Linked DNA regions of Homo sapiens. Changing the gene in region 2 together with the main gene of any one other region gives a genetic interaction. Each region holds a gene or a part of one and is shown on either strand. Other genes may lie near its edges. The genes, in order: ATR and CDC45.

Evidence for each region.
Region 1: changes in CDC45 (region 2) and ATR are lethal when combined (synthetic lethality), as found in Homo sapiens cells (one large-scale study listed by BioGRID).

What each region holds. Positions count from the first base shown.
Region 1 is NC_000003.12:142,557,910-142,561,733, forward strand, and holds part of ATR (serine/threonine-protein kinase ATR), read right to left. Parts: intron 3,513-3,824; coding exon 3,334-3,512; intron 2,546-3,333; coding exon 2,354-2,545; intron 1,533-2,353; coding exon 1,342-1,532; intron 868-1,341; coding exon 715-867; intron 1-714. UniProt on the Homo sapiens protein: Serine/threonine protein kinase which activates checkpoint signaling upon genotoxic stresses such as ionizing radiation (IR), ultraviolet light (UV), or DNA replication stalling, thereby acting as a DNA damage sensor.
Region 2 is NC_000022.11:19,482,920-19,486,743, reverse strand, and holds part of CDC45 (cell division control protein 45 homolog), read right to left. Parts: intron 2,883-3,824; coding exon 2,739-2,882; intron 1-2,738. UniProt on the Homo sapiens protein: Required for initiation of chromosomal DNA replication. Core component of CDC45-MCM-GINS (CMG) helicase, the molecular machine that unwinds template DNA during replication, and around which the replisome is built.

The DNA.
Region 1 (3,824 bases), on a different chromosome or scaffold from region 2:
GGCGTGAGCCACCGTGCCTGGCCTAATGTTTCTATTTCTTAAACTGAGAAGTTGGTATAAGAATTTTTGGTATATTGTTCTTCTTTTTAAAATATTTCTCAAATACTTCCTAATTTTATTAAATGAAGATAATGATATGTAAGGACACATTGCAAATGTTTTACAAAAAGAAAGGAAATGGGATATGTGGGGCAGGCTTTTATGTGTTACTTTTTATGTATCTAACCCCCTTCTGAACTATTAAAAATGTACCTGCTCTTTTAATTATTGAAAAAAATATAAATAAGTCTTAGAAGTCCTATATAGAGATGAGTTAAAACAAACCACACAAGGCCAGGCATGGTGGCTCACGCCTGTAATCCTAGCACTTTAGAAGGCTGGGGCAGGTGGATCACTTGAGGTCAGGAGTTCGAGACCAGCCTGGCTAACATGGTGAAACCCCGCCTCTACTAAAAATATAAGAATTAGCTGGGTATGGTGGTGCGCACCTGTAATCCTAGCTACTCAGGAGGCTGAGGCAGGAAAATTGCTTGAACCTGAAGACGGAGGTTGCAGCAAGCCGAGATTGCGCCACTGCACTCCAGCATGGGCGACAGAGTAAGACTCCGTCTCAAAAATAAATAAATAAATAAATAAATAAATAAATAAATAGATAGATAGATAGATAGATAGATAAATAAAACAAACCACACACACATTCTTGTGAGCACTTACAATAGCTATCTGAAATCCTACAGCTTAATGTTAGAAGATTAGCGGCAAATGTGGTCAACTTTAAACAGCCATCATCAGAATGGGAATAAATCCATGGAAGTGAGAGCATACCACATAAATCTTCCAGGATATGATCTTCAAATGAACTGTTTACTACAGAAGCACAAAATAAGTCATTAATTATAACTTTTCCTTAATCATATCTCTTTTAAATAAAAATAAAGACATTTGAAATACTATCATAATGATCATTGGATAAGCAGAAATTCTTAACACAGAGATCTATAAACGATGGTCTGAGGTCTGTGAACCCAAAGAAATTAAATGTGACTTTATAAAAACATGTTATCTATGCCTGTTTTAAAGAAGAATCACGGCATTCCTCAAACTCCCAAATTAAAAAACTTTGAAGTTATAAATAATTTCTATTGACTAAAGAATCAAAATATTATGCACATAAATTGGCAACTCAGAACTTCTATTATTGACAAATTTAATAGAACTGAAATCAGGAAAAAACTTCTGAGTATTCCAAACACGCACTTAGGCTTCAGGCAAAAAAGAAAGCATATTTCTATACTGATTATCTTTAAAGGTTATTCTGATCTGTTGCTAATTTGTACTCACCTTGCATATAAATCAAAGCATCATAAATTTTCACCACCTTATCAATGGTTGCCTCCAGGTCCAGTTTCTGAACAGATTCTAACAAACTTCTACAGCTCTTAAGCACTTTTGTGTAAAAATCCAATGACATCCAAGTTATCACTACAGAAGGTTTCTTCTTGGATTTATGTTGACAGTCCTTGAAAGTACGGCTGCAGTAAGTACATTTTGTTAAAAACATTGGAATTAAGATGAATTTTGTTATAGTCAAACATAAAATTGTAGTAAAGCCAAAAGAAATTGTGAGTACGAAATTTATCTATAACAATTTAAAGTAAACATGCAAATCAAGTAATATGTTATTACTATTTTAAGTTGAATCTATTTATGTCAGCTTAAATCACCCTTAGGATTTGGGAACCAAATGACTTTGGGAGCCTGAGGTGGGAGGATCACTTGAGCCCAGGAGTTTGAGACCAGCCGGGCCAATATAGGGAAACCCATCTCTACAAAAAAAATTTTTTCTAAATTAGGGTGTGGCGGCACATGCCTATAGTTCCAGCTACATGGGAGGCTCACTTGAGCCCCGGATAGAGATCAAGGCTGTAGTGAGCCATGATCATGCCACTGTGCACCAGCCTGGGAGACAAAGCGAGACCCTGTCTTCAACAGCCAAACACTGGGTTTTGAGTTGTACACAAATGTGTTCTGGTACTTTCTAATCATGTGTCCCCAGGAAAGTCAGTTTTGGCTTCAGACAAAAAAGAGCCTCAGTTTCTCTGAGTGTCAGTTTCTAATTTTTAAAATAGGCATAATAGCCTTTACCTTACAGGACTATTGTAAATATTAACTAAGATATATACAGTGCTTAGCACCGTACCTAGCATTTGACTCAATAGAAAATAAATTTATTAACTACTTCAGTGAAAAGTTTGTGTTCTAAGGTTACATGAGTCAAGTGAATAATGAGTAAACAGTAAATCCAAGTTCATTACAGGAAACCCAACCCCAAGAAACAAGAAGTTTGTTTTACCAGTTCATGTTTTGATGAGAACAATGAACAGTACACAGAGCAGTCAGTTGTAAGACAACAGCAATTCCTTCTAACATCTCAATAACAGGATTCTTTAGGCCACTGTATTCAAGGGAAATCTGAAGGGATTCAGCTTTCTGTTTCAGTGCACTCCATAATATGCTCTTTTGGTTCATGTCCACATGTTTAATTCTATAATTATGAATATAGTAGAGAGATATTCATATGCAATATAAATTTGGTTAAAACATGAAACATATTTAGAATAAAACATACTATGTAATATCAACTATTCAAAAAAATTTTTTTTTTTTGTGAGACAGAGTCTCACTCTGTCTCCCAGGCTGGAGTGCAGTGGCGCCATCTCGGCTCACTGCAAGCTCCGCCTCCCGGGTTCACGCCATTCTCCTGCCTCAGCCTCCCGAGTAGCTGGGACTACAGGCGCCAACCACCACGCTTGGCTAATTTTTTGTATTTTTAGTAGAGACAGGGTTTCACCGTGTTAGCCAGGATGATCTCGATCTTCTGACCTCGTGATCTGCCCGCCTCGGCCTCCCAAAGTGCTGGGATTACAGGCGTGAGCCACCGCGCCCAGCCTGAAATTTATACTAAGATTTAAAACAATTAAAACAATGTTCAGAAGTAACTGAAATATGGCAACTTAGCCACTTTATAAAAAATAGTTGGTTAATGTTTTAAAAATTGCTAATAGATGCACAGTCTCAAAGATTTTTCACATATTAAAAAGTTAAATTAGATAAGCATATAAAAACATGCAAAGTAACTATATTTAACCATGAAATGTTTTATACTACTAACCGTCTACAATAATTATAAAAATATTTTAAGCACTCCCTTGGCTACATTTAGAAAGATGTTCTTTGTGTATTTAAATCAAAGCACTTAACTAAAGCTGATTTTTAAAAGTGAACAAAGTTTTATTTAATGGCTAAATACAAACTGAATGAAGGTCATCATACTCCTCAGTCTGTTTTGGTGCTCTTTTAGAAGGGTTTAGAGACGAGCTGAGACGACGCCTTTTGGGTGATATTCCATCACTATTACTGCTGAGGTTTTCCTGTTGAGTTTGGCATTGAATCTCCTCAATGATTTCCATACTTTCCATTTTCAAAGCTGCATAAAGTGGGCCCAACAAGTACTGAGAAAATAAAAAATAATTTCCAGAAATATTCCTTAGAAAATATATTTATATTATTCATAGGCAGCAAGAATGTATTAGATGTTAGGTGTTTTCTAGTGAAACTACTTTTAGAGTCTCATAAAGCAAAATAAACATCTAAATTGATCTATATTATTTAAGTCTATATATAGACTATGGTTCTATAGTCTTAGAAGGTTTAAACAAATCCTTCTCTCTACATCCTGTTTTTCCTCTTACCAAAATGCTATAAATTTTAATTCCCTTATAAAAAATTCTGTAAGGGAATTACCAACTTTCTTCATGTAACTT
Region 2 (3,824 bases):
ACCACTGCACTCCAGCCTGGGCGACAGAGCGAGACTCCGTCTCAAAAAAATATATATATACCTCTAATATACACATACTTAGTTATAAATCATGCACAGGTTTTAATTATATAAAAAGTATTCTTCTCAAGAATGCTTAATGTTATTAAAATCAACGCTCTAGACCTAATTTACAGATCATAGAAAATGCAGGGATAGAGAAGCAAGTTAAAGTACTCCATGAAGAAACAAGTAGTAGTAAATATTAGAAAAGAGAACTGGCCTTCAATGTCATTAAAAACAAAAGAAAAAAAAGAGGTAAGGTATGGTTCTAGGTTAAGACAGTAAAGAGGAATAGCTAAATGTCTTAATCTTGATTGGAGAATAGTTCAGAAATAAAAATAGCTGCAAAATATATTTTGAGGACAATTAAAGAGACCTGAATATGGGCTGAATATTACATGATATTAGGATATTATTAATTTCTTATGTATGACAATGGCATTGTGTTTATGGGGAAGAATGTCCTTATTCTTAGGAGCTGCTTATGAAAGAATGTGTAGAATATCATGGTTTCTGGCTGGCTGTGGCAGTGCATGCCTGTAATCCTAGCTACTTGGGAGGCTGAGGCAGGCGAATCGCTTGAACCCAGAAGACAGAGGTTGAAGGGAGCCGAGATCGTGCCACTGCACCCCAGCCTCAGTGACAGAGTGAGACTCCATCTCAAGAAAAAACAAAATAAAAAATAAAAAAGAATATCAGTTTCTGCAATCTATTCTCAAATAATACAGAAAAAAGAATACACAGAAAGAAAGCAAATGTGGCAAATGTGAAAAACTGTTTTTGTTTTTTTTGAGACAGGTTCTCTTCATGTTGCCCAGGCTGTTCTCAAATTCCTGGGCTTCATCAATCCTCCTGCCTTGGCCTCCCAAGTAGCTGAGACCACCTACAGTCATGATCCACTGTTGACTCTAGATTGAAGGTACATGGATATTCACTGTACTATCCTTTCAACCACTGTATACATTTCAAAAAATTTCAAAATAAAAAGTTGGTGGGAAATTATGCCTATTATAATCCATGAATATTATGTTAAACATTTACAAACACAAATTCCAAATTGATGTGTTAAGTATGTAAAAGGAAACGCTGATTATTTTCCTGTATCTCATCAAGACAACCTACCTTCTCTTTATTGCCAAACCCACTGGTCTGTTCTCATTTGCCTGTTCCTTTGGCACTGCTGGCCAAGCCTTCCTTGAAACTTTCCTTCCCACCTCAGAGCTGCAGTGTCTATGGATGCTCTGCCCAGGAATCCTCTTGGCTCCATCCCCTGCTAACTCATGTTTGATACCTGAAAGCTTTCCCTAATTGTGCTCATTTACATGATCAGTATCTGTCTCCCCCAATGGAAAGCTTTGCAAAGGCAGGACTTTGCTCTCATACCCGCACCCCAGGGCCTAACTGGTACCTGGCACATAGTAAGTGCTTAAAAAATATTTGTTTATTAGTCAGAGTGGAAAATTCCAAGACTTATCTGTAGAACATGAATGTTTCCCGGGAAATCCCATTGGATACTGACATTTGGGAACCAATGAAATGCAGCTCATCGATAGTTAAAAGAATGCTATATAAAAAAAAATTCAGAGAACAAAAAGGACCCCTCACAAACCAAAGATTAGAAGATAAAGACCAAGCTGAGTGTAGTGGCATGTGCTTAGTCTCAGCTACTTGGGAGGCTGAAGTGGGAAGATCGAGTGAGCCCGAAGTTTGAGGCCAGCCTGGGAAACAGAGAGAGACCCCGTCTGGGGAAAAAACAAAAAAAAAACAAAAAACAAAAAGTCTTCCAAAAAATAGAACAAAGAGCTGGGCAAGAGGTAAGAAAATATAACAGTGGGTCCAAGAGGTTCCCTATGAGACACCCAAACCTAGTGAAAGGGGTGACAAAGGTGAGAAAGAAGAGAGAAGCATGCCTCAGTTTGAAGGGCATTGCCCCTTCCCCAAATGAAGAATGTCTTGAACATCTCAAATATGGCTCAAAAAGGCTTCCCAAAAGCACATTACCGGGAAATGTCAGGCTGAGGATGAAGGGAAGACCCTAGAACATTACGGGGGCAAATTCTAGGTCACACACCAAGATCAGGAGCCAGAGGCCATCTTCAAAAGCATCACGTGGCCCTCCGTGCTATGGGAACAACCACCTTCTGCCTGTCATTTTACATCTTGCAGAAGCCGTAGTGTTGGGTAGGCCACTGGGCCCAGCCCCAGATCACTAAGCAGCTCAGACCCAAGGTCCACATGGTGAAAACCACTGGTATCTTCACATACAAGATACCTCCCCTGCAGTAATTGTCTGGGACTGGGCCTGGCCAAGGGATGCAGACCCACATTGCTCCTCTGCAGTGACTGCATAGTAAGTGATGCTAGAAGACAGTAGAAAAGGAAGGGGTGGGGGTTACACTATTTATTGCTTCTCTACATTATTTTTTTGCTATCTAGCCGCAGAGCTGAGCTGTCCTAAATTTCATTTCTTCTGACAGGATCCTATTGGACAGATAAGCCACTATTTAGGGAAGTCCAGTAACCTGCCTGAGGCCACATAACCAGGGGACAGCAGAGCCCAGGGTCAGCATCCATGCCTGCTAACTTTTCCACTTCCCACTGCCCTCAGTACACCTTGGCCTGGCAGGCTTCAGGATGACCTCCGACCTCTGGGAGTGCAAGTTCCTCTGGGATAGCTGTGAGAGACCCAAACTCACCTCTTCTAACCGTGTGCGCTTCTCAGAAGGCTCTGACCCATCACTGTCATTTCCTGAATGCTCTTCATCCTCCTCTTCATCCCTGAAGATGTCTTCATAGGCGGGAACTTCAAGGTCATCATCTTGTTTAATGAGTAATTTGATCTAAGTTCAAAACAAAAAGGAATTAAGCCTCTCCTCTTTCTACGGAAAACTATACAATATGTTCTTCTGCAGAATCTTATCATTTCCTAATAAGCTGACTCAGTTTCCTGTTCATACAAATAGCTACCTATTTAACAAGAGTTCCAGGCTTCTAAGGAATTTTCTTGTTTTCATTACCAGTGAGGCACCAGAGTTACACCATACGTGGTATGCAGAAATTATGAAAATCTGAAAACAGTTCTTTGAGAACCATCTAGTCTACTTAAGTCTGGAAACACAGCATCCTCTTACGTCATACACCAATAAAATGAACGCCCCACAACTTGGCCTCTGTCTGATATAGGACATGAAGATGTGTAACCCCTAAGTGGTGACTAAAACTCCTGTCTGAAAGCAACTCCAGGCTGATTTTTCTTTTCTTTTTTTTTTGGAGACGGAGTCTCGCTCTGTCGCCCAAGCTGGAGTGCAGTGGCACGATCTCGGCTCACTGCAAGCTCTGCCTCCTGGGTTCATGCCATTCTCCTGCCTCAGCCTCCTGAGTAGCTGGGACTACAAGCGTCCAACACTATGCCTGGCTAATTTTTTGTATTTTTAGTAGAGACGGGGTTTCACCATGTTAGCCAGGATGGTCTCAATCTTCTGACCTCGTAATCCGCCTGCCTCGGCCTCCCAAAGTGCTGGGATTACAGGCGTGAGCCACCGCGCCCAGCCAAGACTCCATTTCAACAAAAATAAAAACAAATATTTGCTGGGCGTGGTGGCATGTGCCTGTAGTCCCACCTACTAAGGAGGCTGAGGCAGGAAGGGTCAGTTGAACCCAGGAGTTTGAGGCTGCAGTGAGCCATGATTGTGCCAGTGTACTCCAGACTCTCCTTAAAAAAAAAAAAAAAAGATGACAAAGACCAAGTTCTTGTGTTCAGGCTGTTCCCAGTCCCACAGGGT